2 linked regions of the Homo sapiens genome follow. The protein of the gene in region 2 interacts with the protein of the main gene of each other region in a pairwise test. Each region holds a gene or a part of one and is shown on either strand. Other genes may lie near its edges. The genes, in order: FGF12 and DPPA2.

The links.
Region 1: the proteins of DPPA2 (region 2) and FGF12 interact in a two-hybrid assay, tested with the Homo sapiens proteins (one large-scale study listed by BioGRID).

Annotation. Positions count from the first base shown.
Region 1 is NC_000003.12:192,146,741-192,150,569, forward strand, and holds part of FGF12 (fibroblast growth factor 12), read right to left. Parts: intron 1-3,829. UniProt on the Homo sapiens protein: Involved in nervous system development and function. Involved in the positive regulation of voltage-gated sodium channel activity. Promotes neuronal excitability by elevating the voltage dependence of neuronal sodium channel SCN8A fast inactivation.
Region 2 is NC_000003.12:109,306,332-109,310,160, forward strand, and holds part of DPPA2 (developmental pluripotency-associated protein 2), read right to left. Parts: intron 3,000-3,829; coding exon 2,839-2,999; intron 2,749-2,838; coding exon 2,695-2,748; intron 1,963-2,694; coding exon 1,701-1,962; intron 1-1,700. UniProt on the Homo sapiens protein: Binds to target gene promoters, including NKX2-5 and SYCE1, but not GATA4, and may be involved in the maintenance of the active epigenetic status of these genes.

The sequences.
Region 1 (3,829 bases), about 83 Mb from region 2:
CACAATGTTACTGTTATAATTACTGCTGCAGATAACTTTTCCAGTAATTTAACCCTGCTGGCCATCCTTATATTGAGCGGTATTGCAAATTGACATCTGAAAATATACAGTGTTTCAAAAAGACCAAAAGTCACCAGTGCCACAGCAAGATGTAAAATTTGCTCTTTTTCTCATACAACTCATTTTCTAATTTCCCAATCTTTGCACTAAATGGAGTAATAAAATTAACGGTTTTGAAAACCTAGTTCATGTCCCAGTTAGAAAACGACAAGTAAAAGGTAGGTTTTCCAGTTCACTGATGAAAACTGCCCCCCTCCTCAATAAATCAAATAGGTATTTGAATTTCTATACTTCTGTTAACCAAAATAAAAAGATGTTCAGAGAAAGCAAACTAAAGTTATTCTAGAAACTGCATGCAAATACAAATACGGAGAGCAAAACCTTGGTCAAAGCAATAGATTAAATGTAATTTCTTGAGCATTAATTTTCATTGTTATTTACAGGACCTAGGATTCAGTAATATATCTAAGAAGCTGACAAATCAAGGGGAATAAGTCTCAATCAAATTTCTGAATTACAATATAATTTAAAGACCATAATCCAATTAGAAAGCAAAGAAAGAATAAAGTACCTCCCTTCAGTAATATAACTGCCTTACTACCATCCATAGTTGCATTAACGCTTAATGACTGCTATTCTGAATGTACATGGTAAATAATGAAACAAAATTAAGGAAGGAAACAAGGCGTAAGTGTTCTCTAAAGTGCATTATATGTGCAAAACGTAAACGAAAATCACCATGATGTATATAGCAGCCTCAATATCATTTCAGAGTATTCAAAGCAATTTTAAATTGATTAACTAAATTTTACAATTATAACCCAGTGAATATAGTAGGTGAGAAATTATCACCCCCATTTTTTTTAAATATAAAAGAAATTAAGCCACTTCCATAAAGTCAGAGAGTGAGTAGTGGCAGGGCCAGGATGAATATTTAGGGTTTCAAGGTCCTAGTTAAGAGTTTTGAATAAAATCAGAAATACCATAATTTATCCAACAAACAATGTAAAATGACTGACATATCAGTGTTTGAATTCTTATGTCTGTATGTTAATCAAGATTTAAGTTGGCCTTAACTTCACTAAATATTCCTAAAGTCATTCAGAAATGGTAATAAAAGAAAACATATGGCTGTTATAAACAAAATCAAAAAAGAAAGTAACAAGAGTTGGTGAGTATGTGGAGAAATTGAAACCCTATTCATTTCTACTTAAATGTAAAATGGCTCAGCCACCGTGGAAAATGAAATGGTGATTCCTCAAAAAATTAAATACGGATGTACCATATGATCCAGCAATTCCAACTGTAGGTGTACACTCAAAATAAATGAAAGCAGGGACCCCAGCATCTATCTGTACATCCATGTCCATAGAAGGATTATTCACTGTAGCCAAAAGATGGAAGCACCAAAATGTCCATTGACAAATGAATGGGTAAATATAATGTGGCCTATACATATAATGAAATATTATTCAGCCTAAAAAACAAAATTCTGACACATACTACAACATGAATGAACCTTGAAGAAATTCTGCTAGGTGAAATAAGCCAGTTACAAGGAGCCAAATATTGATTCCACTTATGTGAGATACCCAGAGTAGTCAAGTTCACAGAGGCAAAAAATAGAACTGTACTTGCCAGGGGCTGGGGAAGAATGGGGATTTCTTATTTAATGAGTACAGAGTTTCAGTTGGGGGAGATGAAAAAGTTCTGGAGTTGGATGATGGTGATGTTTGCACAACAATGTCAATGTACTTAACGGCAATGAAACATATACTTAAAAATGATTAAAATGGTAAATTTTGTATTATCATATTTTACCACAATTAAAAAGCAAACAAACAAACAACTTGTCCTGAATTGTCCTGAGTATAAGGTATAAGAAGTGACTATTAAAGCCAGAGGTGTTCCATTTGCATAGGAAGAGCCAGCAATTCCCCAATAATAAAAAACATTAGTTTTAGAACTGTATTAAGGAAGAGGGAGTTGAGATATAACTGAGGAGGTACAGGGCGAGGAAAAGGATAGAGAAATCTGATGAAAATATTCTAGGACTGTGCTGCCTAGTATAGCATCCATTTAGCCATATGTGGCCACTGAGCACGTACAATGTAGCTAGTCCTAATTCAGATGAGACATAAGTGCAAAAATAAACACTACAGGACTGGGTAAAATAGGGAGGTGATGACGAATAAGAAGGATAAGGCTAATTTGTGTCAGAGCTTGCTGAATTCCAGGCCAGAAAATTTAAACCGTGAACATCATATATATCAGGCTCAATATGATAGCAAGTGAAGAGTTAATATACTTAGTTAATTAAGTGATATGATAGCAAATGAAGAGTTAACGTCCATCCGACATGAGTGTATAAAGAAAAATCTATTAATTCCTTTATGTAGAAAAATGTCTAGGTTTACGTGATATGGATACAACTAGTCAGTATAGTCAAGAAAAATCATTCAAACTGAATCTCACTGAGTGAACTCTGTAAGGAATGACTGGCAGCATTTGAACCTTTTTTTTATTATTATACTTTAAGTTTTAGGGTACATGTGCACATTGTGCAGGTTAGATACATATGTATACATGTGCCATGCTGGTGCACTGCACCCACTAACTCGTCATCTAGCATTAGGTATATCTCCCAATGCTATCCCTCCCCCCTCCCCCCACCCCACAACAGTCCCCAGAGTGTGATATTCCCCTTCCTGTGTCCATGTGATCTCATTGTTCAATTCCCACCTATGAGTGAGAATATGCGGTGTTTGGTTTTTTGTTCTTGCGATAGTTTACTGAGAATGATGATTTCCAATTTCATCCATGTCCCTACAAAGGACATGAACTCATCATTTTTTATGGCTGCATAGTATTCCATGGTGTATATGTGCCACATTTTCTTAATCCAGTCTATCATTGTTGGACATTTGGGTTGGTTCCAAGTCTTTGCTATTGTGAATAATGCCGCAATAAACATATGTCTGCATGTGTCTTTATAGCAGCATGATTTATAGTCATTTGGGTATATACCCAGTAATGGGATGGCTGGGTCAAATGGTATTTCCAGTTCTAGATCCCTGAGGAATCGCCACACTGACTTCCACAATGGTTGAACTAGTTTACAGTCCCACCAACAGTGTAAAAGTGTTCCTATTTCTCCACGTCCTCTCCAGCACCTGTTGTCTCCTGACTTTTTAATGATTGCCATTCTAACTGGTGTGAGATGGTATCTCATAGTGGTTTTGATTTGCATTTCTCTGATGGCCAGTGATGATGAGCATTTTTTCATGTGTTTTTTGGCTGCATAAATGTCTTCTTTTGAGAAGTGTCTGTTCATGTCCTTCGCCCACTTTTTGATGGGGTTGTTTGTTTTTTTCTTGTAAATTTGTTTGAGTTCATTGTAGATTCTGGATATTAGCCCTTTGTCAGATGACTAGGTTGCGAAAATTTTCTCCCATTTTGTAGGTTGCCTGTTCACTCTGATGGTAGTTTCTTTTGCTGTGCAGAAGCTCTTTAGTTTAATTAGATCCCATTTGTCAATTTTGGCTTTTGTTGCCATTGCTTTTGGTGTTTTGGACATGAAGTCCTTGCCCATGCCTATGTCCTGAATGGTAATGCCTAGGTTTTCTTCTAGGGTTTTTATGGTTTTAGGTCTAACGTTTAAATCTTTAATCCATCTTGAATTGATTTTTGTATAAGGTGTAAGGAAGGGATCCAGTTTCAGCTTCCTACATATGGCTATCCAGTTTTCCCAGCACCATTTATTAAATGG
Region 2 (3,829 bases):
AGCTTTATGGCTGGACAATGCCTTTGCACAAATTATTAAAAGGTGCCCACTGTCCCCACATAAACGAATGTAGCTTGAAGAGCAGAGGATATGCCAATTTCAACTTCAAGTCTTCCTTCTGGCTGGTTTCCTTGTATGATGAATAATGTGTCCTACCATACTAGTTAGCTGGAATAAAATAGGATCTAGAATACTTCTGGAAATGGGAAAATGGGGGAGTAAAAAAAGGATTCAAGCCAAAAAGGAAGGTGACTTGAGATAGCAGACCCTGGAAATAAAAGCAATAGCAAGAAAAGAAGAGCAGGAGTTGGAGAAAAGTGGAGTTAAGTTATCCTCAAGATTTCTTAGAGGGCCCCAGGCGCGGTAGCTCACGCCTGTAATCCCAGCACTTTAGGAGGCCAAGGCAGGTGGATCACCTGAGGTTGGGAGTTCGAGACCAGCCTGACCAACATGGAGAAATCTCGCCTCTACTGAAAAAAAAAAAATACAAAATTAGCCAGGCATGGTGGCGCATGACTGTAATCCCAGCTACTCGGGAGGCTGAGGCAAGAAAATTGCTTGAACCTGTGACCTCAGGTGATTCACGTGCCTTGGCCTCTCAAAGTGCTGGGATTAAAAGCGTGAGCCACTGTGCCCGGCCAAGATTTTTTTTTTAAAGACAGAGTCTGGATCTGTCTGTCAGGCCAGAGTGCCATGGCACAATCTCAGCTCACTGCAACCTCTACCTTCTGGGCTCAAGCCACTCTCCCACCCCAGCCTCCTGAGTAGCTGGGACTACAGGCACACACCACCATGCCCGGCTTTTTTTCGTATTTTTTGTAGACAGGGTATTTCACCATGTTACCCAGGCTGGTCTCTAACTCAGGAGCTCTAGCAATCCTCCCACCTCGGCCTCCCAAAGTTATAGGCATACAGGCATGAGCCACCAAGCTCAGCCACTACTATTCTATGAAACATGTAAATCTTCATTTTATATAACAGGATACTTGGCCGGGAGCAGTGGCTCACACCTGTAATCCCAACACTTTGGGAGGCCGAGGTGGGTGGATGGTCTGAGGTCAGGGGTTCGAGACCAGCCTGGCCAACATAGTGAAACCCCCTCTCTACTAAAAATACAAAAAATTAGCTGGGCGTGGTGGTGGGTGCCTGTAATTCCAGCTACTCAGGAGGCTGAGGCAGGAGAATTGCTTGAAACTGGGAGGCAGAGGTTGCAGTGAGCCAAGATCGCGCCATTGCACTCCAGCCTGGGCAACAAGAGCGAAACTCCATCTCAAAAAAAAAAAAAAAAAAAAAAGAACAGGATACTAAGGCTTAAAGTAAGTAACTTGCCAATGTCACATATCCAGGAAATGGTAAAGCAAGAATTTGAACCAACACATTCCTCTTATTCACTATGTCATAAATGCCTTAAGGAAGAGAGAAAGAAAAGGGGAAGACCTCAGACTGTGGTCCAAGATTATCAGGTTATGCTTAGTGATGGAAAAGGGCCACTACTCAGTCACCTGATTTAGAGACCCATCCAGACACAACATGACTATCCATCAATATGACAGATAGAAGAAAGATGTCCCATGTGAATCCAATTTCTAATCTTCAGATATTTTAGCAAATGCCTTCCCTTTGACCACGTTTCAGTCTTGGACTAATAAAAGTTAACCTTGTCCTCTGGAGTGGGACTCACACTTTAAGGTTGATCTTACCAGAGGCTTGCATCAAAAAGGCCTCAACAGAAACAGGAATGGAACATGAATTCAAAGCCTTAGGCTGAACAGCTCTTGCAGCAATTCTTGCCCATGATGCCAACATGGCTCCCGGTGCTGAAGTTATCACTTCAACTGTATTGGTCTCTTCTGCTCTCTCATTCATCTCATAACTTCTCTGAAGCCTTGCTCTCTTGGTCACTGCCTTGCGTTTCCTCGAACATCGCTGTAATCTGGTCTCTTGTGACATTTCAGGCATATCCTGCAAATGAAATTCACGATGAGTATTCAGTAAACCGCTAGGGCTGTAAGGACTTTTGGGTCAATTTTATTATTCTTTTTTTTTTTGAGACGGAGTCTCGCTCTTGTTGCCCAGGCTGGAGTGCAATGGCACGATCTCGGCTCACCGCAACCTCCGCCTCCCAGGTTCAAGCTATTCTCCTGCCTCAGCCTCCCTAGTAGCTGGGATTATAGGCATGTGCCACCATGTCCGGCTAATTTTGCATTTTTAGTAAAGACGGGGTTTCTCCATGTTGGTCAGGCCGGTCTCGAACTCCTGACCTCAGGTAATCCACCCGCCTCGGCCTCCCAAAGTGCTGGGATTACAGGCATGAGCCACCACACCCGGCCAATTTTATTATTCTTTGTACTGACCTGAACATGTATGTCAATGTGGGAAGGGTTTCGGAATATTAGTTCCCATAAACTGTAAATTCTCCACTGGGAGAAATTTTGGGTTGTTGAAACTGTGCAGGGGGAGGAAAGGTTGCAACTGACATCCAGCTGGTAGAGGCTGGGGATGCTGCAAAACATACTACAATGTACAGGGCAGCCCCCAAAACAAACAAAAAATTATTTGTTCCGAAATATCAATAATGCCACAGTGAAGAAACCCTGCCTTAGAGGTACAACACATAGATATGGTGCGACGGTAGGGACCGGACGAATCATGATCAGAACCCACCTTCACACCATCAACACACTCATTACTCACTTGCCGTTGTTCAGGGTAAGCATGCCTATGAAGCCTCAGATAAACTTCGATTTTCTTAGGAAATGAAGAGAGAGATTAAGTTAAAAGTTGACAAAGACTCCCATAATTATTCCCAGCAGCAGATATTCACCCAAGTGTACTAACCTTGCCATTAGTACTCAAACCGAGTTGTTGACACCAGTCCCGCAAAGTGTCCCGACACACCTTATTAATGGGAGGCAAAATGGTCGGCAAGGGAAGGGCTGGTATTTTGCATCTAGCTTTTTGTGGAGCTGTAAATTGCTCATTTGTTTGAAGTAGATGACCTAAGACAAGAATGGAACCAAAGTAGTAATAATTTAAAGTTGGCAAGATTATTTTAAAATTTTACAAAGATCTAGGGTCGGGCACGGTGGCTCACGCCTGTAATCCCAGCACTTTGGGAGGCCGAGGTAGGCAGATCACGAGGTCAGGAGATCGAGACCATCCTGGCTAACATGGTGAAACCCCGTCTCTACTAAAAAAATACAAAAAACTTAGCCGGGCGTGCTGGCGGGCGCCTGTAGTCCCAGCTACTTGGGAGGCTGAGGCAGGAGAATGGCATGAACCCGGGAGGTAGGGTTTGCAGTGAGCCAAGATCATGCCACTGCACTCCAGCCTGGGCGACAGAACAAGACTCCGTCTCGTCTCAAAAAAAAAATTTTACAAAGATCTTTTCACATTTCTCACAACCCAATTTGCATATACACATATCAATTTTTATTTCTCATATTAAAAATGAGGTAACAAGGCCGGGCACGGTGGCTCACACCTATAATCCCAGAACTTTGGGAGGCTGAGGCAAATTCGCCCAAATTACTTGAGGTCAGGAGATCGAGACCAGCCCGGCCAACATGGTAAAACCCCGTCTCTACTAAAAATAGAAAAATTACCTGGGCATATGGCCAGGCATGGTGGCTCATGCCTGTAATCCCAGCACTTTGGGAGGCCGAGGTGGGTGGATCACCTGGGAGTTTGAGACCAGCCTGACCAATATGGAGGAACCCTGTCTCTACTAAAAAAAAAAATTCAAAATTAGCCAGGTGTGGTGGCACATGCCTGTAATCCCAGCTACTAGGGAGGCTGAGGCAGGAGAATCGCTTGAACCTGGGAGGCG